Homo sapiens: one gene and its partner. The protein of the gene in region 1 interacts with the protein of each later gene in a biochemical or structural test. Each region holds a gene or a part of one and is shown in the gene's direction. Other genes may lie near its edges. The genes, in order: SERINC1 and PAX8.

The links.
Region 2: the proteins of SERINC1 (region 1) and PAX8 form a complex in vitro, tested with the Homo sapiens proteins (one study listed by BioGRID).

Annotation. Positions count from the first base shown.
Region 1 is NC_000006.12:122,454,808-122,465,967, reverse strand, and holds part of SERINC1 (serine incorporator 1), read left to right. Parts: intron 1-7,286; coding exon 7,287-7,448; intron 7,449-9,317; coding exon 9,318-9,487; intron 9,488-11,160.
Region 2 is NC_000002.12:113,231,754-113,242,913, reverse strand, and holds part of PAX8 (paired box protein Pax-8), read left to right. Parts: intron 1-135; coding exon 136-224; intron 225-783; coding exon 784-906; intron 907-1,187; coding exon 1,188-1,363; intron 1,364-2,071; exon of another isoform or gene 2,072-3,825; intron 3,826-4,701; exon of another isoform or gene 4,702-4,824; intron 4,825-6,192; coding exon 6,193-6,313; exon of another isoform or gene 6,314-6,645; intron 6,646-7,331; coding exon 7,332-7,520; intron 7,521-11,160. UniProt on the Homo sapiens protein: Transcription factor for the thyroid-specific expression of the genes exclusively expressed in the thyroid cell type, maintaining the functional differentiation of such cells.

The DNA of each region.
Region 1 (11,160 bases):
CACCGTTCCTGGCCTCTGTTCCATTTTTATAGCATCCTGTGGTTGTTTCATGGAAGCAAGCTTTCTCCCTTTTTAAAAAAATCTTTATTTTTATCTTTATGATATACCCTGTACTATATAGTTTATTAATATACTCTGTAAGTATATTAAAAATACCAAATTTTTTATGCTTTTATGTCTGCCTATAATTTCTTTTCAAGTTTCTCCTATCCACTCCTCCCACTTTCATTGATCTTAGTGTTTTCCGGAGTATTCAGTGGTCAGTAGCTATTTGTTCATATTTAGGAGTGGGACACTCAAGAGCTTGGTGTAGGACTTGTCAGCTGTGACTACCGTGAAGTGATCTGGCTCAACCAGTTTATTGTGGAAGCCTAATGCAGATATTTATCTAGGGCTATTGATAGATCCAGGGTACACTTCCAGTCTCCAACCTGGGGAATATACCTGCATTCTGGAAGGCAAGTGACGGAAAGAATGATGAGGTTCTTCACATTCAGTACATAAAATTTGACTTAATTTTATGTTTTTAGTATGGAACCCCTTCTGTCAACTCTACTTGGTGTTTCCCTGTCAAACCTCATGTTTTATTCTTTCAGGTGACTAGTGCAAGAAATGGAATGAAATCTGGGAGTCTTAACTGCTCTTTGGAAAGACATTCAACCAATCATCTATTTTTACTATACCTTTAGTGTCACTTACAGAGACTCCTGGTGCCACCAGTTCCTGAACTATTTGGGGATTCTGCCAAATGAATTGTGTTGCTCGTTAACTTTTTCCTTTGATAACTTAGAATTCAGCTTTCTCTGTTAAGGTTGTTACTACTTCGTAGTTTCTACTTCCTAGATTTGTTCTGGGAAGAACAAAACAAAAGAACTAGAACAAAAGATCTAGTTCTTTTTGACTTTTACATTTTATTCTTTCTTTTTTAAAGAAAAAAAACCCCAAACCTTTATTTTTTATTTTATTGGGATTTCTAGAGTGAACATAGGTAAATTAATATATTCAGTCTGCCATCTTTAACTAGAAGCACTTTGTACTATTATTTTTATGTTGCCATTATCTTATACCCTAGAAACATTGACTGGGGGCATTCTATGTTTTAATAAGCCCTCCAGGTAATTCTGGTAGTTGTTACAGTTTGAGAACCAGTGCTCTAAACTTAAGTGGATGCAAAGCTCTCTACCAGTCCTTGGCTTACCATTGCTTTGCTCTAATTTTTTATTTTAATGTCATCTCCTAATTGACCACATTTTGTCATCAGTAGATTTTTCAAAAAGGATTTATTGGTGCCGGAATCTCTAAGTTCTTTGGTTTTTGAAAGTGCCTGCTAAATTCTTGAGAGACATTTTGGACTGGTATAATATAGTATACGAATTTCCTTCAGAACTTTGTAGTTATTTCTCTTTCGTATTCTGTCTTATATCAGCCTGGTTTCCACACCGTCCCTCTGCACGTGCATAGGTGGTTTGTTTCCTCTGCCTGAGTAGCTGAAGAGTTTTTGTTTATCTTAGAAATTAAATAACCAGATAAGTCTGAGTTTAAATCTTTTATCACTTTTTTTCCCCTTCTCAAAAAGTAGTGTGCTCTTTTGATGCACAGATTATTTTTCCATCTAAGGAATTTTTCTTATATTAGATCTGTGAATATCCTTTAATTCATTTATTTAGAGGATTCTCTATTTTAAGGACTTTTTTTAGTTAAGGTATAATTTACATACAGTAGAATTTACTCTTTGTAATATACAGTTCCATGAGTTTTGACAAATGCATCTCTAGTCGTGTAACCGTTTTGGAACATCGATCATCCTAAAAAATTGCACTGTCCTGTCCTTGGCAACCCCTATTTTCTGTCTTTAGGATTTTGCCTTTCTAGAGTGTCATATTAATGGAATCCTACAATATATAGTCTTTGAGTCTGGCTTCTTTTACTTAGCACATAATGAGTTTCATTCTCCGTATGTTTTTATTGTTGAATATTGTTTTTGTTTGGATGTACCACAATTTATCCATTCACCATTTGAGGAGCCTTTCTAGGTTTTGATGATTACAAATAAAGTAGCTATAAGCATTCCCATCAAGGTTTTTTTGTGTAATTATAAGTTCTTATTTCACTTGAATAAATATCTGAGTGTGGATTTGCTTATTCATACAGTAAGTGCATGTTTGATTTAAAAATAAGAAACAGTCAAACTGGTTTCCAAAATGGTTGTACCATTTTTCATTCCCGCCACCAAAGTAAGAGAGTTCTAGTTGCTCTGCATTCTTGTCAGTAGTTGGTATCATCAGTTTATTTCATTTTAGCCGTTCTAATATGCATGCAGTAGTATCTCTGATTTTAATGTACATTTCCCTAATAATGATATTGAGCACTTTTTCTTTGCTTATTTGCTGTCTATATGCCTTTTATTAAAGTATCTGTTTAAATATTTTGCCCATTTTTAATTGAGTTGTTTGTTTTCTTATCACTGAGTTTTTAGAGTTCTTTTTATATTCTGGATGCCGATGATTTATCATGTACCTCACTTGCAAGTATTTTCAAGTTTATGGCTTGCTTTTTCATTCTCAGCAGTGTGTTTCAAAGAGCAAAAGTTCTTAATTTTGATGAAGCCCAATTCATTTGTTTTTCTTTTGTGAGTCCTGTTTTTTATATGGTATCTAGGAAATCTTAATTCTCATATATGGTTTGATTATGGCTTAAGGTTAACTTTCTAAAAAATGTATGAATATCCAATTATTTCAGCAACATCTGTTAAAAAGATTATCCTTTCCATAGTGAATTGCTTTGGTATCTTTGTCAAAAATCCTTTGATTATATTTGCATGAATCTATTTCTGAACTTTATTGTGTTCTACTTAGTGTGTCCACCCTTTTCCCTATATCACTCTGTTTTAATTACTGTCACTTTAATGCTAGTCTTGAAATCAGGTAGTGTGTCTTTTAACTTTGTTCTTTTTTCAGACTTGTTTGAGCTATTCTGGTGTTTTTTGCCTGTTCAGCTAGTTTATTTCTGTAAATCTGATGTTGGGATTGTGATTGGAATTGGGCTGAATCTATAGATAAGTTTGGAAAGACCTGATATCTTGAAAATAATTGTCTTCCAACTATGAACTCTGTATATTTTGCCATTCATTTAGGTCTTTGATTTCTTTCACCAATGTTTTGTAGTTTTCATTATTTGAGATCTTGTCTATGTTTTGTTAGATTTATAACTATTTTCTTTTTGTTTTCAGTTATTACTAATACGTAGAAACATGATTGTGTATATTGACTTTTTATCATGTGACCTTATTAAACCGATGAGTTAGTTCTAGTTGCATTTTTGTAGGTTCTTTGTGGGGTATTTTTATTGTTTTTATTTGTTTTGTTTTGTTGTCATCCAGACTCGAGTGCAGTGGCGCTATCATTGAACTCCTTGAACTCCTAGGCTCAAATGGTCCTCCTGCCTCAGCTTCCCAAATTGCTGGGATTACAGGTGTGAGCCATGGTGTATGGCCCTCTTTGGGATTTTCTATATAGACAGTTGTGTTATATGTGAAGAGGGCAGTTTCGTGTCTTCCATTCCAATTTTTATGTTTTATTTTCTTTCTTGCCTCATTATATTGGCTGGGACCTCCAGTGTGAAGTTGAATTCAAATGGTGAGAGAGGTATTTTGCCTTGTTTGATGTCTTACAGGGAAAGCATTCAGACTTTCGTCATTAATTATGGGTGAGAGCTATAGGTATTTGTAAATGCCATTTATCAAGTTAAGGATGTTATCTTCTATTCTTTGCTGACAGTTTATATCATGAATAGGTATTGAATTTTGTCAAATGGTTTTTCTGTATCTATTGAGATGACCTTGTTTTTTTTCTTTAGTCTGTTTATACAGTAGAGGTCATTGGTTGATTTTTAAAAGTGGAACCAGCCTTGCTTTTCCAGGCTAAACTCTACCTGGTGGCAATATATTATCCTTTTTATATACTTTCATATTGCTGTTTTTGACTTGCTAAAATATCATTAAGAATTTTTTTGTGTATGTTTATGAGGGATATCGGTCTATTATTTTCTTATGATGTCTTTGGATTTAGTCTCTGTAATTCTGGCCCATTTTTTTAAATAAGAAGAATATGTCTCTTTCATATTCCTTTGTATGCAAATCCAAATTTCTCTCTGGTATAATTTTCTTTCTTGGAGGATTTCCTTCAACATTTCTGGTAGTTTAATTCTGCTTGTTTGGATTATTTTGTCTTTTCTATTCCTGAAAATGTCTTTATTTTGCCTTAATTTTTGGAAGATATTTTCACTGAGTATAAAATTCTTTTTTTTTTTTATTATACTTTAAGTTTTAGGGTACATGTGCACATTGTGCAGGTTAGTTACATATGTATACATGTGCCATGCTGGTGCGCTGCACCCACTAACTCGTCATCTAGCATTAGGTATATCTCCCAATGCTATCCCTCCCCCCTCCCCCAACCCCACCACAGTCCCCAGAGTATGATATTCCCCTTCCTGTGTCCATGTGATCTCACTGTTCAATTCACACCTATCAGTGAGAATATGCGTACAAAATTCTATGTTTACATATTTTTTTCTTTCGGTACTGATTTTAGGCTTGAACCGTTTCTTACTAGAAGTGTGATTTATTTCTTTGTTCCTCAGTTTATAATGTACATTTTATTTTTCTGCCTACTTTTAAGATTTTTCTGATTATTACTTTTTTAAGTAATTTGATTATGATGTGACTTGGTGTGGTTTTCATGTTTATTTTGCTAGGGCTTTGTTGAGTTTCCTGGATCTGTGAGTTTATCGTTTTCATAAATTTGGAAAAATTTGGGCAATTACTTCCTCAGAAGCACCTTTGTGTCACTTCTCTCCAATTGAAGTTCATTTCAGGGACTCTAATTTCACTTATATTAGGCTATTTAAAGTTGTCTCACAATGTTCTGATCCTTTTCTTATTTTTATCTCTCTTTCATTTTGGATCATTTATTTTCTTATGTCTTCAGGTTCATTATTAATCTTTTCTTCTGTCTTGTCAATATTTAGGGGGCTTATTTTATCATCTGGAGAAGTATGATATGGGTCTTAATTTTAAATTATCTTCCATGTCTGTCCGTAACATTATCAAGTTTTCCTCTACTTCCTTGAGCATGTGATATATACTTAACAGTAATACTACAATGCCCTATTTATAAATGAACTCAGTTATCTATATCATTTCCAGGTTGATATTGACTGATTGATCCTCATTATAGGTTGTATTTTTCTGGTTTTTGCATGCCTGCTAATTTTTTGTTAGCTTTCCAGTGTAAATTTTTCCTTGATCAGCGCTGGATATACTTTTATTTTCAAAAAAATATTCTTGGGCTTTTATCTTTGACTTGGGTGATTTTACTTAGAGACAGTGTGATCTTTTTATTTGCCTTTAGGTTTCGTTAAGTGCAACTAGTGCAGCCTTTAGTTTGATGGCTGATTTTTCTCCAGTATTAATTGCCTTCTGATATCTTTACCCAATGCCTCATGGATTACAAAGTTTTTCACCTCTGGGTGGTAAAATTCTCAGACCCTCCCTGCAGTGAACATTCTCCCTAGGCAGAAATAAGGGCCACTTGGCTGGGCGCGGTGGGCCACACCTGTAATCCCAGCACTTTGGGAGGCCGAGGTAGGCGGATCACCTGAGGTCAGGAGACCAGCCTGGCCAACATGGTGAAACCCTGTCTACTAAAACTACAAAAAAATACAAAAATTAGCCGGGTGTGGTGGTGCACGCCTGCAATCCCAGCTACTCAGGAGGCTGAGGCAGGAAAATCCCTTGAACCCGGAGTGGGTGGGGGAAGGTTGCAGTGAGCTGAGATCGCACCACTGCACTCCAGCCTGGGTGACAGAAGGAGACTGTGTAAATCAATCAATTAATCAATAAAATAAGGGCCAGTCATAGGGCTCACATTGTCTCCTCTTAGAAATTGCTGGCTTTACATTGCCTGTTGTTCATTGTCTGAAAAACTTATTTTTTCCATTGTTTAAGTCAGGAGGATAAGTCTGGTCATGGTTTCTCCATCTTGACCTGAATTTATAGTAATTATCCCAAGCCTTTTTTCATCAGTAATTTTATGTTTACCTATGTCTGTTTTGTTTCTTGATAGTTACTAGTTAAGTCCGTTTTTTCCCTTCTCATTTCTTTAGCCCTTTGATTTCCACTTTCCATTGTGTTCTGTTCTTACTTCATTTTTGAGGTCTCCTTTTTTAACAAAAAATATTTTTTATTTTTCTGTAGCTCAAATGAAATACTGGTAGGGGATTTCCTTTTCTTACTGGATTATATTTATTTCAGACTGAATTCTTCATATGCCTTATATTTTCTTCATTCCTTTTTCTGAGGGGAGATGTTTATGTTTAACTTTTGCTAAAGTATATTTACATAGTTGCCATGACATGTATTTCCGTTTTGTGGACGTTTAATATAAAGCAGCTTTATTCTTACCTTATATTGGTTGGTGTAGTGGTCTGGCTTCTACAACATTCCCTTACTGTGATATCTAAGACTCTTTTCCCCTAGAGCTGTAATTCTAGGGCTGGAAGATCTGGTTCATCCACCTTCTAGAAGTCTGACATCTCAGCCCAGGTTATGATATTATGAGAATATTTACTCTGTGGCTTTCTTAGATACTGTTAAATACTCTGTACCAGTGTTCCTCTCTCCTAGACAGGAAGATATTCTGTTCCCTTGGGGGCATACTGCTAGTTTAGTGTGGTGGTTACTGGAGAAAAGCTAGCCCCAGTTGTATTATTATCCTTTTTGCCTCACTCTAGTTGTAGTTTTCATTATTATCACTATCGCCAGGTCAAAAGAAGGAAAATATATCAATTCACTTTTTTTTCCCTCCCTGGATGTATTTGAGAATCCTCGGAATTTTTTGTATTCATCAGTCTAGTATCTGGGGGCTAAAGGTCAGGGGCTGGAGGTGGGCTTAGCAGCTGTGCTACTCATGAATATTCCATTTCTTTTCCTCTTTAAACTTTGGTTACTGCTGATGATTTTTTCCCCTTTTTGTTTTAGCTGATTTGTCCGTTTTACTTGGCATAGAGTCCAAGGATTTTTTTTGTCTTTACTCCTTCTTAGAAGTTGCTAAGTTTTGTGGTATATAGATAATTTATATGAACCAAATACCGTATGTCCCTTGATGTAATTACTTTTAGTCTTTTTTCTTTTTTAACAGATAGAATGTCAATTTTCATTGTATCATTTTAAGATATAGTGATTTACTGATTCTTAATAATATTTTCAATAATATTCTTTTTCCCAGATACCATGTTTGTGTGGAAGTGCCCCGTGTTTGCTATGCCGATGCTGTCCTAGTGGAAACAACTCCACTGTAACTAGATTGATCTATGCACTTTTCTTGCTTGTTGGAGTATGTGTAGCTTGTGTAATGTTGATACCAGGAATGGAAGAACAACTGAATAAGGTTAGTCTCGTTTCTTATTTATTGATTAACTGAGGCTATAGGGTATATATGTATATGTATAAAATTGATTCGGGGATATTGTAAACAGAATAATATAGAATAAGACAGTATGTAATCCTAGTTGTAGTTCATAATCTTTTAGGAAAAAGATAATATACATTAGTTTGTTAAGTTCTATGATGGTGGTACAGGAAATGTACTGTGGTAATACACAGAAAGAAGTATAATTCTAACCAGGTGTCAGAATCTCAATGGGTCATGGAAAAAAGGATGTTCTAAGAATGATTAGAACTTGCATATACAGAGATTGAAAAATAGAAAGCATAATGAGTATAAAAGAGCTTTTCAAGCAAAGTATCTATACTTTAGGAAGATTAATCTTACAATTAATAAAGTATAAAAGTCAAGCAGTTAAATATGGAGGCTGTTGCAGTGGTATAATCAAGAAGAGAATAGCGGACCTGAAATAAGATTTTCTGGATGTAAAATTGACTGAGCCTAGCACTGAAATATTGGCAGTGATATGGAATCATAAATAACAACCAGGTTCTGGTCCTACAAAACCGGGAGGAAAGTATTGCTATTAACCTAGAAAGGAAAATTTTTAGAGAGAGTCAGGTTGTGGAAGGAGATTGGGAACACATAATAAATTTAGTTTCTAACATGTTGACTTGGTGGTATTGTATCGTGTACATGTATATATATATATATATATGTATGTCTTACTCAGTTCAGGCTGCTATAACAAGAATATCATAGGCTGGGTGGCTTAAGACAACAAAAATTTATTTCTCAGTTTTGGAGGCTGAAAGTCCGAGATCAGGGTGCCACCATGGTCAAGTTCTGATGAGGATCTTATTCCTGGTTTACACATGGCCATCTTACATTTTTGAAAGAAAGCAGCAGCTCTCTTCTGTCTGTTTTTATAAGGGCATTAATCCCATCCTGAGGGCTCTACCCTCATGATTTAATTACCACATAAAGGCCCTATCTCCCACTATCCTCCCATTGAGGGTTAGAGTTTCAGCATTTAATTTTGGGTAGACACAAACACGAAGTCCATAATAATATACAGCAGTAAGTAGAAAACATGAAGGAATTTAAAAGAGAAATCAGAGCTAGAGACTGCCTTGAGGATAGAAATTGAATGTTGAAACCATGGCAGCGTATGCTGAAGATCATTCAGAGTGAGCAGAGCTAGAACTCTGCCAAAATCTCTTACTTAAGGGAGTTAGTGGAGAAAGGAAAACCTGATTCTGATCCTAGAAAACTGGGAGGGAAGGGATAACAGAAAAGAACAAAGAAAATGTATAGGTTCTAGGAAGAAAGTTTTAAGAATGACAGGGATAGTGTCTATATAAAAATGAGATTAAGGAATGTGATTAAGCAGTAGCCTTTGGGTTTGGAAACCAGTACATGACTAGTATCCTGGAAAAGCAGTTTTTTTAGAGTGCTGGGACTGGAAAGAGTGGGAGGAAATAATTTATTCTTATATATATGAATAATAGATGTATTAATAGTTCTGAACAGTAGTCTCAGAAATAGCACTTACACTACTAAAACAAGTCTATCGTGCTATTCAAGTAGAATGCAAGTTTTTAAAATGTAGGATAAATCTATAACTCAAAATAAGCAACCAGCATAGAGTTGGTATTGTAGTTTATGATTTGCGCAGATGGGGATTTAACTCTTTTTTCCCCACTGTATGTGATTAAAATGTATCAGACTCATCTTGAGTACATATTCATCATAAATTGTAAAGCAAATGCCAGTTTTCTAAACCTTTACTTAAACTATTTGATTACATGTAATTTTTATTTTTACTTAATGAAAAAAAATGATGGATCATAAACTCTTTTGTTTTTCTAGATTCCTGGATTTTGTGAGAATGAGAAAGGTGTTGTCCCTTGTAACATTTTGGTTGGCTATAAAGCTGTATATCGTTTGTGCTTTGGTTTGGCTATGTTCTATCTTCTTCTCTCTTTACTAATGATCAAAGTGAAGAGTAGCAGTGATCCTAGAGCTGCAGTGCACAATGGGTAAGTTTTTAAATAAGCTTCAATATAAAAGCTTGGGTAGCCTCTTCTTGATAATTGCCAGTTTATCCAAGGAAACTTTAAGGTAAAATAAACTTATACAATTTGCAGAATTACTTTATTCATGAATGACAGGATAAGAAAATCTTGTTTTTACTGGAGAATGTCAGACTTTGGATATTAAATAATAGCTGTGATAACCTCTGATCCACAGTGTTTTATATTTTCATACTAAAAAAGAGGCTCTATTATATTTGTGACTACTAAGGGAATAGCTATTTCTCCTTCTACTGTTAACTTTAGGTGGACCAGTCCACTTACATAGAACTCTCAGTTCCCTAGACCCAGAGAGCAGATTTTTCTAGGTTGGTTGTATTGGACAACCCAGAAAGAAACTTCAGGGTTTCTTTTATCAATCTTCCTTCATATAGAGCACTACTTCTGGTACCCTTATTTGACTGTTTTAATATCTGCTGTTGCTTATCTAGTTATATGTGCTACCAAAGACAAAAAGTATAAACAAGTAGAATATAAATATTAATGAGAAAATATGTGACGGGTTGCTTTTCCTTTATTTTGTTCCTTTGGTCATTGATTATTTTATTAAATTATTAGAGTTTTAGATGGAGGCATTTATCATGTGTTTATAAAAACTATTCATTTATACAGTTCACCTTATACTTTGATACATTATCCCACTTATGTGAAATAAGCCTGTGAAATGGAACTAACATTCTCATTTTTCCATAATGAATTAGTGAGAAATACATCTTTCTCAAAATGGTCTTAAAAGCAGTTTATGTAATTGTTGTTTTTTCTGATAATCAAGTGTATTAGGGTTCTCTAGAGGGACAGAACTAATAGGATAGATAGATATATATAAAGGGGAGTTTATTAAGTATTATCTCACATGATCTCAAGGTCCCACAATAGGCCATCTGCAAGCTGAGGAGCAAGGAGAGCCAGTCCTAGTCCCAAAACTGAAGAACTTGGAGCCTGATGTTCAAGGGCAGGGAGCATCCAGCACAGGAGAAAGATGTAGGCTGGGATGCTAGGCCAGTCTAGTCTTTTCACTTTTTTTTTTTGCCTGCTTTATATTCTAGCCCTGCTGGCAGCTGATTAGATGGTGCCCACCCAGATTAAGGGTGTGTCTGCCTTTCCCAGCCCACTGACTGAAATGTTAATCTTCTTTGGCAACACCCTCACAGACACACCCAGCATCAGTACTTTGCACCCTTCAATCCAATCAAGTTGACACTCAGTATTAACCATTACAAGTCAGTACTTTGCATCCTTGAATTCAATTGACACTCAGTATAACTATCAGAAGTCTACCCATTGTCAACTTGAACCCGTATACATCTCCTGAGATCATACATAATCTGCAAATAAAGACAATAATAAGGTCATACAACTAACCTTACAACTGAAAACGCACCAGTCCCCAACCAAAATACTAATTACATAAAGTTAACAATACTTAAATGCTGATGTGAAGTCAGTAAATCTTATGTCACATGATAAAGGAGAATGGAAATAAAATGAAGATATTTTCTTAGTACAAGTATATGCATGCATGAACATGTTTTTGACAAAACAAGGAGGAAGTACTCACAACAATTACAGCCCTCGTTTCTGCAGCTGGACATGTGGTCATAGCTGGTATTGATGACTGC
Region 2 (11,160 bases), on another chromosome or scaffold:
TTGACTGTGGACAGTTGAGTTTCAAGTGCCTTGGAGATACCCAAAAGGGGTGTCAAAAAGGCGACTGGGTCTGGGGCAGCCATGAGTTCTCTTTCCTCCTCTTCTCTCTCATGGCCTTTCTTCTCTTCATCACAGAATCATCCGGACCAAAGTGCAGCAACCATTCAACCTCCCTATGGACAGCTGCGTGGCCACCAAGTCCCTGAGTCCCGGACACACGCTGAGTGAGTGCTGAGAGACCTGGATACACACACATGCTCGTGTACACCTCCCCTTCAGCATACCCACATATACACAGAGGCACACACAGACACACCCACACAGACATAGCTGTGCACAGTACCATTCACAAACCCATGTGTAGACTGAGTTGTGCCACTGCGACGAAGTCTGGCCTGTTCCCAGGGCAGATTCACTGAACTATGGAGAGGTGCAAACACTTGAGACAGCTCTAACTCCAAGAATCCCTCCCACCAGGAGGCCCCCTGGAGGAAGGACCTGAGCCCCTCCAGGGCTCAGTCCATGGTTCGGCTTGCTGCCTCCTGCACAGTGTCAGCAGGGACTGTGAGGGGTGTCACTCTCACTCCCTGACCCTCTCCCTCTTCCCACCACCGCAGTCCCCCCAGAGTCACCCCAGGGCTGTAAGGGGTGTCCCACCCCTTGCTCCTCTCCCTCTCCCCCAGCCCCTGCAGTCCCCAGCTCAACTGTAACTACCCCAGAGTCACCCAGGGCTGTGAGGGGTGTCACTCCCACCCCTGACCCTCTCCCTCTCCCCCACTGCAGTCCCCAGCTCAGCTGTAACTCCCCCGGAGTCACCCCAGTCGGATTCCCTGGGCTCCACCTACTCCATCAATGGGCTCCTGGGCATCGCTCAGCCTGGCAGCGACAAGAGGAAAATGGATGACAGTGAGTGCTGGGACAGGAGGGCAGCGGGCGGTGCACGAGAGCAGTTTGCTCAGGCTTTGATGGGGACAGAAACCCTTCCACTTATGATATGGGACTTTGTAGGGGCTCTGCATGTGACTGTCACATGTCCTGTCCCTCAGTTGGCCAAGGCTCCTGGGCCCACGTGGCTGGCCCTTTTTCTCCCTCCACAGTGAGTCAGCTTGGAGTCAGTCCTCTACTTTGGCCTAGAGCATGAATAGATAGGTCCCCTAAAAGCTTTCTTCCTTCCCGGGGGGTACCAGGTGATCAGGATAGCTGCCGACTAAGCATTGACTCACAGAGCAGCAGCAGCGGACCCCGAAAGCACCTTCGCACGGATGCCTTCAGCCAGCACCACCTCGAGCCGCTCGAGTGCCCATTTGAGCGGCAGCACTACCCAGAGGCCTATGCCTCCCCCAGCCACACCAAAGGCGAGCAGGTGAGAAGCTGGGCCCTGGGAGGTGAACAGGGTGGGCAAGGGCCAGAGAAGGTCTATTCTCCAAATGAGCCTGTGCTCCATCAAAGCAGCTGGAAGTTGCATCAATGGGCTCAGGGCACCTGCCTTATGCAACTCCAAGCCTGACACATGCTTTATTTTACCAGATGCCCTGGCATCTTCCTCCCTTTCTAACCCTCCTGGCTTCCTTCACCCAAAACCTTTGAGCCTGGGCCTTTCAGGGATGGCAGCACAACCTGATGATGCTATCCCTTGCCATCAGCGTCTTTCCCAGATTGCAACATCACGTTCCACAACTCTGAAGCAGTAGCACAAAGCCTTCACATAATGACCTCAGCCACTATTTCCTAGCCCCACCTTTGGCCACTCATCCTGCACACCCCATGCTCTTGCATTACTCATGGCCCCGAGCTCACCACCCTCGCTCACACCTCTCTGCCCTTGCACACTGTGTGCCCTCCACACAGAATGCCTTTCCTCCCACTTCTCTGCATGGAAAAATACCACTAGCCTTCATGACTCAGCCAAACATCACCCTCTCCGTCAGTCCTCCCCTGCCCCTCCGACATGAATCATCTCTCCTGCCTCTTGCCCTTCTGCATGTCCCACATGCTGCTCTCAGTAGCTTCTCACAGTGTCACTTAATAATCTAGCAGACAGACAGGTACAAAGACACGCGGACTCCTTAAGGACAGGGAAGCCTCATGAAACGTTAAACATCGTTTTTATTCCCAGCACCTACCATTGTGCCCCCCTTATAATAGACAGTAATGGTATAGTGAATGAATGAACAAATGAATGAGTTGAGAAATCCAGAATAATACATCACAAGCTACAGCGAATTTTTCTTGCTAGTGCTCAGGACAGGTGAAATGAATCATAACAGGTTGGTGTCCGTGAAAAGCTGACAGAGATGTGAGAGGTCCCACCCTGAGGCCAACAAAGACTCTGCAGCTCTGGCAGAACCACTAAGCTCTCAGCTCCTAGTCATCACATCTTTTTCCCTTAACCCTGCCAAGTCAACCAGATGAGGAGTGTCTTCAGGGTGGGTCTGTTGCCCCTCTTTGCCCATGCCGTCATTTGCTGTAGGAGTGAGGCAAGTCCATATGCCTTTAAGAACCGAGTAGGACAATGGAGATGATGCCAATAATCAGCCCAACCACTTCCAGTGACCGTCTGGGCTGCTGGTCCCGTGCCAGCACTCGCAGCTGGGCAGGCAATCTGCATCAGCAATTTTATCAGCGTTGACTGTGGCAACCACGAGCGTGCAGAGAAAGCTGACCATCAGCAGCATGGGGAGAGGGCCTGGGGTGCTCACGCACCAGTCAGCACACAGCTCCAGGAAGGAAAGGGGTTGCAGTGGGGGGCCTGCAGGAAGCTCACTCTGTGAGAGTAAGCCTGCAAAACTCAGTGTGCAGGCACCAGCCACTCAGTGAAAGTAAAGAAACCCTGCTGATGAGACTCTGGACACCCGCTGAGTCCCAGAGCCATTTCCTGGCTCCATCCCTAAGCCCCCCAAAGGACCCTGCTTGACTACAGAGCACCCCCATGCCATGCTGGCATATGAACATGGGGAATCCTGGAATGAGAAAGTCTTTGAGCTTTCAGGGACCTCCATGACCACCTTGTCCAGTTTCTCCATTTGTGTGGAGATAATCCAAGCAAGACAAGGAGGGCTTGGGCAATCAGAAGGTTTTGGAGCTCAGGCCTGCCAACCCTCATTTCATTCAGACTGGTCCACTGTCACCTGTTTCAGATATGGTGCTTCTACGTAAACACTTATTTGAAGACTGAAAAAAAAAGCATTTGAAAACCATTAAACTTCTCCAACCACTCATCTTTCAGATGAGGAGACTGAGGTCCAGCAGTGTCCATAAATTATTCATTACCTCCTCAGTCAATCATTATTCACCCAGTCATTCACCTGGAGGGTGGTGAAGGCAGGGAGAACCAGCCAGTGCAAGGGCCCCTCATGTCCTGCCTGGCCTTTGCTTTTCCTACCTCTGGTAACTGACTGTGCTGCCAAAGTAACACTCCGTGCTCTCTCACCTGGGCATAGGAATGCCCTCTGGCTTGGGGAGCCAAGAAAGAAGCACAAGTATTCATACCTGACCTTAGGACAGGTTGTAACACAGCTATCTTTTCTGCAAAATCAACAAGTGGGGGACCAGGCATGGTGGCTCACACCTGTAGTCCCAGCACTTTGGGAGGCCAAGGTGGATGGGTCACCTGAGGTCAGGAGTTTGAGACCAGCCTGGCCAACAAGGCAAAATCCCATCTCTACTAAAAATATAAAAATTAGCCAGGCCTGGTGGCGTGCACCTGTAATCCTAGCTACTCGGGAGGCTGAGACAGGAGAATCGCTTGAAGCTGGGGGGCGGAGGTTGCAGTGACCCGAGATTGTGCCACTGCACTCCAGCCTGGGTGACAGAGCGAGGCTCCATCTGAAAAAAAAAAAAAAAGGGCAGGGGGAAGTGTTCATCAGAAACATCATGTGGCCTTATTCCTGGTTGCTATTTCATGACCAGACATAGCTAGAAGTCATACAGCTCTTGTTTCCCTATTTTACAAATGCATCAAAAAAAATCAACAGAATATGAATATCAGTTTATTGACAGAAATCAAGAATTTGGTGGCTTCTGACTCTTCACGATTCTGAAATAATATCTGTGATAACTCTCATTGGGCATCTGCTGTCACCAAGTATTCGGTGCTAAGCACATTATGTATAAGTATACAAAATTTCATGTAATGCTTACGTCAGCCTCATAAAGTAGAGTCTATGATTCCCATACAGGTGAGAAAATTAAGGTTCAGAGCAGTCAAGTAGACTAAAGCTACTTGGCAGGTCATTGCAGAACCAGGGCTCAGAGTCGCTGAAGTTCTGAAGCATTGTGCTGCTCTGCCCCGATTCAAGTTCAATTCCAGCTAAAAAGCCCAATAATCACTGGGAAGTTTCAGTCATTGAATACAAAATCACCAAAAGATTTGACTATATAGGTTTTCTTTTTCCTTTTTTTCTAAGTTACTTGGATTTTGAAATAGCTATAGGATTCTGAGTAGATATTTTGCTGTCAAAACAACACATCCATAAAGCATTTTAAACTTCTCTTATACGCTCTAGAAATTAGGTATTTTGTTCAATTTCAATAAGACACACCCTGGCCAGGTGCAACGGCTCATGCCTGTAATCCCAACACTTTGGGAGGTCAAGCCAGGCAGATCATGAGGTCAGGAGTTTAAGACTAGCCTGGCCAACATGGTGAAACTCCTGTCTCTACTAAAGATACAAAAAATTAGCCTGGCATGGTAGCACGCACCTGTAATCCCTGCTACTCGGGAGGCTGAGGCAGGGGAATCACTTGAACCCAGGAAGCAGAGGTTGCAGTAAGCGAAGATCGCACCATTGCACTCCAGCTTGGGCAACAAGAGCAAAACTCCGTCTACAAAAAAAAAAAAAAAAAAAGGCCCTAAGCAACTCCACCCTGCCTCTAAGTGGGCCCCCTTGGAAGGCATGGAACCAGAGCACCATTTAGTCAATAATTGCTGCTATGTGCTAATGGTGCCCTGGTGGCCTCCAGAATTGACTGCAGCTTCCAAAAGTGCCCAGCATGCAACCGGAAAGTGCTGTGGATCTTTGCAGAACCCAGCTCGATGGAAATCACTGAAAACAATTGCCTTTAGTGGCACTGTTATGTAACTACTGAGCATTCCCTGAATTCAGCTTTGCACATCTCACGTAGCAGGTATGTGACGAGTGTGAAGGTATGTGGGGAATGGGTGTGTTCTTTTTTCTGCGCTATCTGCTTCCCCAGTGGAAGGAGGCCATGGTGAGGATGAGGTACACTTACCTTTAGTTAAACAAGTTCTTTTCGGAAGGAGTACCTAAGGTCATAGCTGTGCTCCTGGGAAGGGGAGGCCAGGAGGCATCTAAAATGAGGTCTTACTGATGAAGACCCCCAGGTACTTGACAAAGAGTGTTTCCAACAAAAACAACTCTCAATACCATTTTCAAGCCGAACTTGCACACTTCTATTTGTTTGGATGTGGAGAGAGAAAAGAAGAAATCCACGTGGTGGGTAAAGCACCTGGGTCCACAGCCGAAAAATCCCGGGTTTAGTCTGTTTCACTATACAAAATTGGGCCATTTACCTGAGTTCCAGGCTCCACATATAAAACACAGACATAATATTACTCACCCATGTCACTGGGCTGCTGGGGGACTCTACTAGGACAACAGAGGCAAAGCTCTGATATAAGCTCTTTGCAAATGTAAGAAGTGGTCCTTATGTCACCCAGTTTAGGGCAGTGGTTGAGAGCAGACACATTCTGATCCCTCGAATCTGAATCCTATCTTTGGCCCATCTGGAAGTGGGACAAGTTTCTTAAACCTTTGTGCCTGGGTTTCCTATCTGGGGAAGAATAAATTAACAGATGCAAGGACCCTGAACAGTCCGGTTGGAGACTGCTCCAGTCCTTGGCACCGTCCTGCATTCTGTGGGTCCCAACAGTGTGGTGAAACCAGGAAGCCGACCAGCCATCCAACCAGGGTGTGGTCCTCTGGCTGAGACTCTCTATCCCACGTCTGGGCACCCATGCTACCAGCTGGCCTTGAATTCCAGGGATGCGGGAGGACAATGAGCATGAACGAAACGTGCCGAGTGGAGTTGAGAACGTAAAGGAAGAAGGGGGCGATGAGGACCTCTCCTGGGGAGATGAGGGCTGCCAAGTCCTAAGACACAGGCTCAGGGTCTGCAGGAAGGTCGGCTTGTTGGATCGTCTCTGTGCGCTGACTTCTCTTTGCTCCCCAGGGCCTCTACCCGCTGCCCTTGCTCAACAGCACCCTGGACGACGGGAAGGCCACCCTGACCCCTTCCAACACGCCACTGGGGCGCAACCTCTCGACTCACCAGACCTACCCCGTGGTGGCAGGTACAACGCCCGGAGCCTCCCTGGCAGGTGGAGGGCGGGGGACTGAAGAGCTTGGCTGGCTGTCAGGCGGAAGGTGTGGGGCCCTGGCCTGGAGAGGAGAGGCGGGCTGTGCCGGCCGGGCCGCCAGGTGGGCCCAGGGGTCGCGCCTCCGGTCCTAGGCCGGGCCTCAAGGTGGGCCGAGGGGTCGCGCCTCCAGTCCTAGGCCGGGCCTCAAGGTGGGCCCAGGGGTCGCGCCTCCGGTCCTAGGCCGGGCCTCAAGGTGGGCCGAGGGGTCGCGCCTCCAGTCCTAGGCCGGGCCTCAAGGTGGGCCGAGGGGTCGCGCCTCCGGTCCTAGGCCGGGCCTCAAGCTGGGCCGAGGGGTCGCGCCTCCGGCCCTAGGCGGCTCCCGTAAGGTGGGCCGAGGGGTCGCGCCTCCAGTCCTAGGCCGGGCCTCAAGGTGGGCCCAGGGGTCGCGCCTCCGGTCCTAGGCCGGGCCTCAAGGTGGGCCGAGGGGTCGCGCCTCCGGTCCTAGGCGGCTCCCGCAAGGTGGGCCGAGGGGTCGCGCCTCCGGTCCTAGGCCGGGCCTCAAGCTGGGCCGAGGGGTCGCGCCTCCGGTCCTAGGCGGCTCCCGCAAGGTGGGCCGAGGGGTCGCGCCTCCAGTCCTAGGCCGGGCCTCAAGGTGGGCCCAGGGGTCGCGCCTCCGGTCCTAGGCCGGGCCTCAAGGTGGGCCGAGGGGTCGCGCCTCCGGTCCTAGGCCGCTCCCGGGTCTCCGCGCTCCCTCCTGTGGGAGAGGCGGGCGCACACACGCCTTCCGGGTCTCTCCATTTTCGCTGCAGAAGCGCAGCAGGGAGGTCTAGCTTCTCTCTCCCCGCCTTGCCACGCCTCGTGGGCCCCGGCTCTCCCCAGCCCAGACTCTGAGGGCAGCTGAGCCTGCCCCGCGCCCCGCCCGCACCCTCCACATCCCACGGCTTGGCTTGTGCGTGTTCCCTCCCCGCCATCTCACACCCCTCTCTCCTTGTTGTCTCCCTCCCTCCGGCAGATCCTCACTCACCCTTCGCCATAAAGCAGGAAACCCCCGAGGTGTCCAGTTCTAGCTCCACCCCTTCCTCTTTATCTAGCTCCGCCTTTTTGGATCTGCAGCAAGTCGGCTCCGGGGTCCCGCCCTTCAATGCCTTTCCCCATGCTGCCTCCGTGTACGGGCAGTTCACGGGCCAGGCCCTCCTCTCAGGTACGACAGGGAGGTCCCGGGGCCATGCAGCTATGGCGGCGGGTGGGACGGGGGTCCTCAGGGCAGACCGCCAGCCCCCTCTCTGGCCTCAGTCTCATCCACCCCCACCCTGTTCCCTAATTCCTCCGGCAACTTTTGGAGGCGCCAACATGAAGTTCTCTGTGACGGGGAAGACATGCTCGGAAGGGGCGGATGCTGTAGGGGTGCCGGGGATGCACCACCCCAAGACCCCATGGAAAAGCAGGAACCCTAAGGCCGGGAGCCGGGTGCTGTAACGTAGCAACTTGGCCTTGGTAAATGCATAAATAGATAGAAGGAAAAATGAACATTTTGGAGGGAAAAAGGAATTGGCTTTTGGAGCCCATTTCTGGATCAAATTTCTAAAAAGGCCAAGGGTCAGTCCCAGTTGTGTTTCCATGATGCAGCTATCTTCATTCCTAGCTTAACAGCATCACCGGGAGGACAGTCAGACATCTGTTAAACATGATAAATTCAGTGATTCAACAACTTGAGAGGAGTGGGGGACCTCCCATCAGGAACCTCAACTGCCTCAAAATATTTAAAGCTGGAAGCACCGACCGGGCGAGGTGGCTCACCCCTGTAATTCCAGCAGTTTGGGAGGCCGAGGCAGGTGGATCACAAGGTCAAGAGTTCAAGACCAGCCTGGCCAAGATGATGAAACCCCATCTCTACTAAAATTCAAAAAATTAGGGGGTGTGGTGGCAGACACCTGTAATCCCAGCTACTGGGGAGGCCGAGGCAGGAGAATCGCTTGAACCCAGGAGGCATAGGTTGCAGTGAGCTGAGGTGGCGCCATGGCACTCCAGCCTGGGTGACAGAGCAAGACTCCATCTCAAAAAAGAAAAAAACAAATAAATAAAAATAAGTAAATCTGGAAGCACCTGAGGGAGCCTCTAGATCAAACCTCTTATGCTGATGAGGAACCTGGCCCAGGGAGGAGAAGGTCCCTGCCAAGGTCTCTGGGCAGGAGCACCATCTGTAGCTGGTTGAGGCCTGGGCCTGCACTGCATGAGTCAGACCTCAAGGGGAGCTGGCTCCTCCTGGCAGAAGGACCTTCGCTCATCCAGCCAGGGCCTGAGGAATGGCTGAGAGTCAAGCGCTTGGCTTGGGTTGGAGAGGGCCTGAGATGCAGTGAAAGTGGGAAGCAGAGACCCATATGGTCTTCAGATACCTCAAGGGCTTCCACAGGGATAGGACTATTTTAGATGTGGGCCCAGTGGGGGCCCAGGACCAGGGAAGGAAGCCAGCTAGCTCTCAGTTCAGCATTGGAGGAATCTCTTTAATAGCGGCACTGTCTCCAAGGAGTGTGGGTATTTAGTGACAGAAGTAAATGCCTCTTCACCTCCCACACCCTCCTACCCCGACGACCTTGAAATGCTGGAGCAGAGACCAGTGCGTGGGTGGGGTGTGTGAGACCTGTCACAGAGGCAGCCCAGAGTCAGACAGTCCATCTGGACCAGTGGTTTCAAATTTGGGCCTCTCAATGCTCTCTTGAAATGAAGCCTTTTACAGAAGACATGTATGCTCACCAGACCCCTGAAGAACTGCTCTTTTAGAAGGGGTCCCTGCCCCTAGAAAGCCCTTGGACTTCGAAACCACTGCACCAGAGGATTAAGACCTCTACAAGCCCAGAGTAACCACAGGGTCATGTGATAAAAGTCCCTGGACCCTTTTTTTTTTGTTTTTTTGTTTTTTGAGATGGAATCTCACTCTGTTGCCCAGGTTGGAGTGCAGTGGCGCGATCTCAGCTCACTGCAACCTCCACCTCCTGGGTTCAAGTGATTCTCCTGCCTCAGCCTCCCGAGTAGCTAGAACTACAAATGGGCGCCACTACACCCGGCTAATTTTTGTATTTTCAGTAGAGATGGGGTTTCACCATGTTAGCCAGAATGGTCTCAATCTCCTGACCTTGGTCCGCCCACCTTGGCCTCCCAAAGTGCTGGGGTTACAGGTGTGAGCCACTGCACCCAGCCCATGGACCCTTTTTTATAACTGGCTCTACATTTTCTTTCTGGCTGGCACCCGGGTTTTTTTTTTTTTTTCCTCCGTACATCCCAGCACCTAATGTGAGAAGTTTCCTTAGAAGAGAGGGACATCCAGTGTGTGGGCAGAGAGATGGTGTTTAAGGGTCTAAAGCGAGGAGTTGACTTGGAGTTCAAGAATTCAAGAGGGTGAAGGCAGCAGAGATGGGTCATTTGTTTTGACCAAAGTGATGAAAAGAGCAAAACCTGTGAGCTGAGTAAAATTATGTCAGCCAGAGAAAATGGGATGCGGGGTAGGGAGGGGAATGAGAGGATAGTGGAGAGGAAGGGAGGGGAAGGGAAGGGAGGGGAGGGGAGGGGAGGGGAGGGGGTGAGGAGAAGAGGTTCATGTCAGTTACAGGGAGTTACGCAAGCCTGCATGTCTTCTGAGAATGGCAGGCTAGAGCTGGCGGCGGTCATGGGGCAGGCAAGGGGTGAGGGTGTGGTGGTGCCCATGATGATGGGGAGCAGGTGCTGTGGAAGCCGCGGAGAAGCTTGGCAAGACCAGCTGAAGGAGAGGGAAGGATGTAGGGCAGCTGGAAGTGGATAGATGTATCAGAGTGCAGACATAGGCTGTAGTGTAAAGTGCAACTGGAACAGCCCAGGGCAAACTCCCTACTCCCAAAGCCCCTACACTTTGTCCCCTCCCTGTCATCCTGTTAGCATCCCCTGTCAACATGCAGTCAATCAGAGGTGACGCCTCCAACTACTGTCAGCTGTTAATTTAGTGGACATGCCCACTCTCCAGGCCAACTGCAGGACTGAGAGGTCACCCAACCCATGGGACAAAACAGCTGGCAGCAGACACCAGGTAGTCATGTAGGAAGCAGGCAGCCAAATATGCAGCACCGGCATATCTTTCAGGCTGGTGGCCCCCAATCCAGGCCCAGATGATGCTGAAGTGCAGGTGTGAGCACTTTGAAGGTTGCTGGCTGGTCACAGGGCCCCCTAGCCCAAGGGTTGACAATTCAGCACAGAGGCAGAGGCTCTGAAAAGAGTGAGGAGTGCTAGCCTTGGAGGATCTGGGGTCCAGGCAAATGGCCAAGAGTAGGAAGCAAGTCAGAAAGCAGCTCAGGCACAAGGGAGGGGATGGCTGGTGTCCATGCTGAGCTCAGGGTGTTGGCCTGGAGCTCCTTACAGACTGTCCACCTGAGGCCTCTGGTCAAGACTGGATCTCAATACCTAACACGTGGCTGAGCCATGGTGAGAGAGCTGGGAGGACATGACGGGGGGCGGTGGGGAAGGTTAGGAAGGGAATGGTTCCAGGAGCGCAGGAGGCTGCAGACCTTCCCAAGAAGAGGTGAATTTGAAAGAAAGAGAAGGAACCTGGGCCCAATGGCTCACACCTGTAATCCCAGCACTTTGGGAGGCCAAGGTGGGTGGATCACCTGAGGTCGGGAGTTCGAGACCAGCCTGACCAACATGGAGAAACCCCATCTCTACTAAAAATACAAAATTAGCCAGGCGTGGTGGCACATGCCTGTAATCCCAGCTACTCGGGAGGCTGAGGCAGGAGAATTGCTTAAACCCAGGAGGCGGAGGTTGCGGTGAGCCGAGATCGTGCCATTGCACTCCAGCCTGGGCAACAAGAGCGAAAC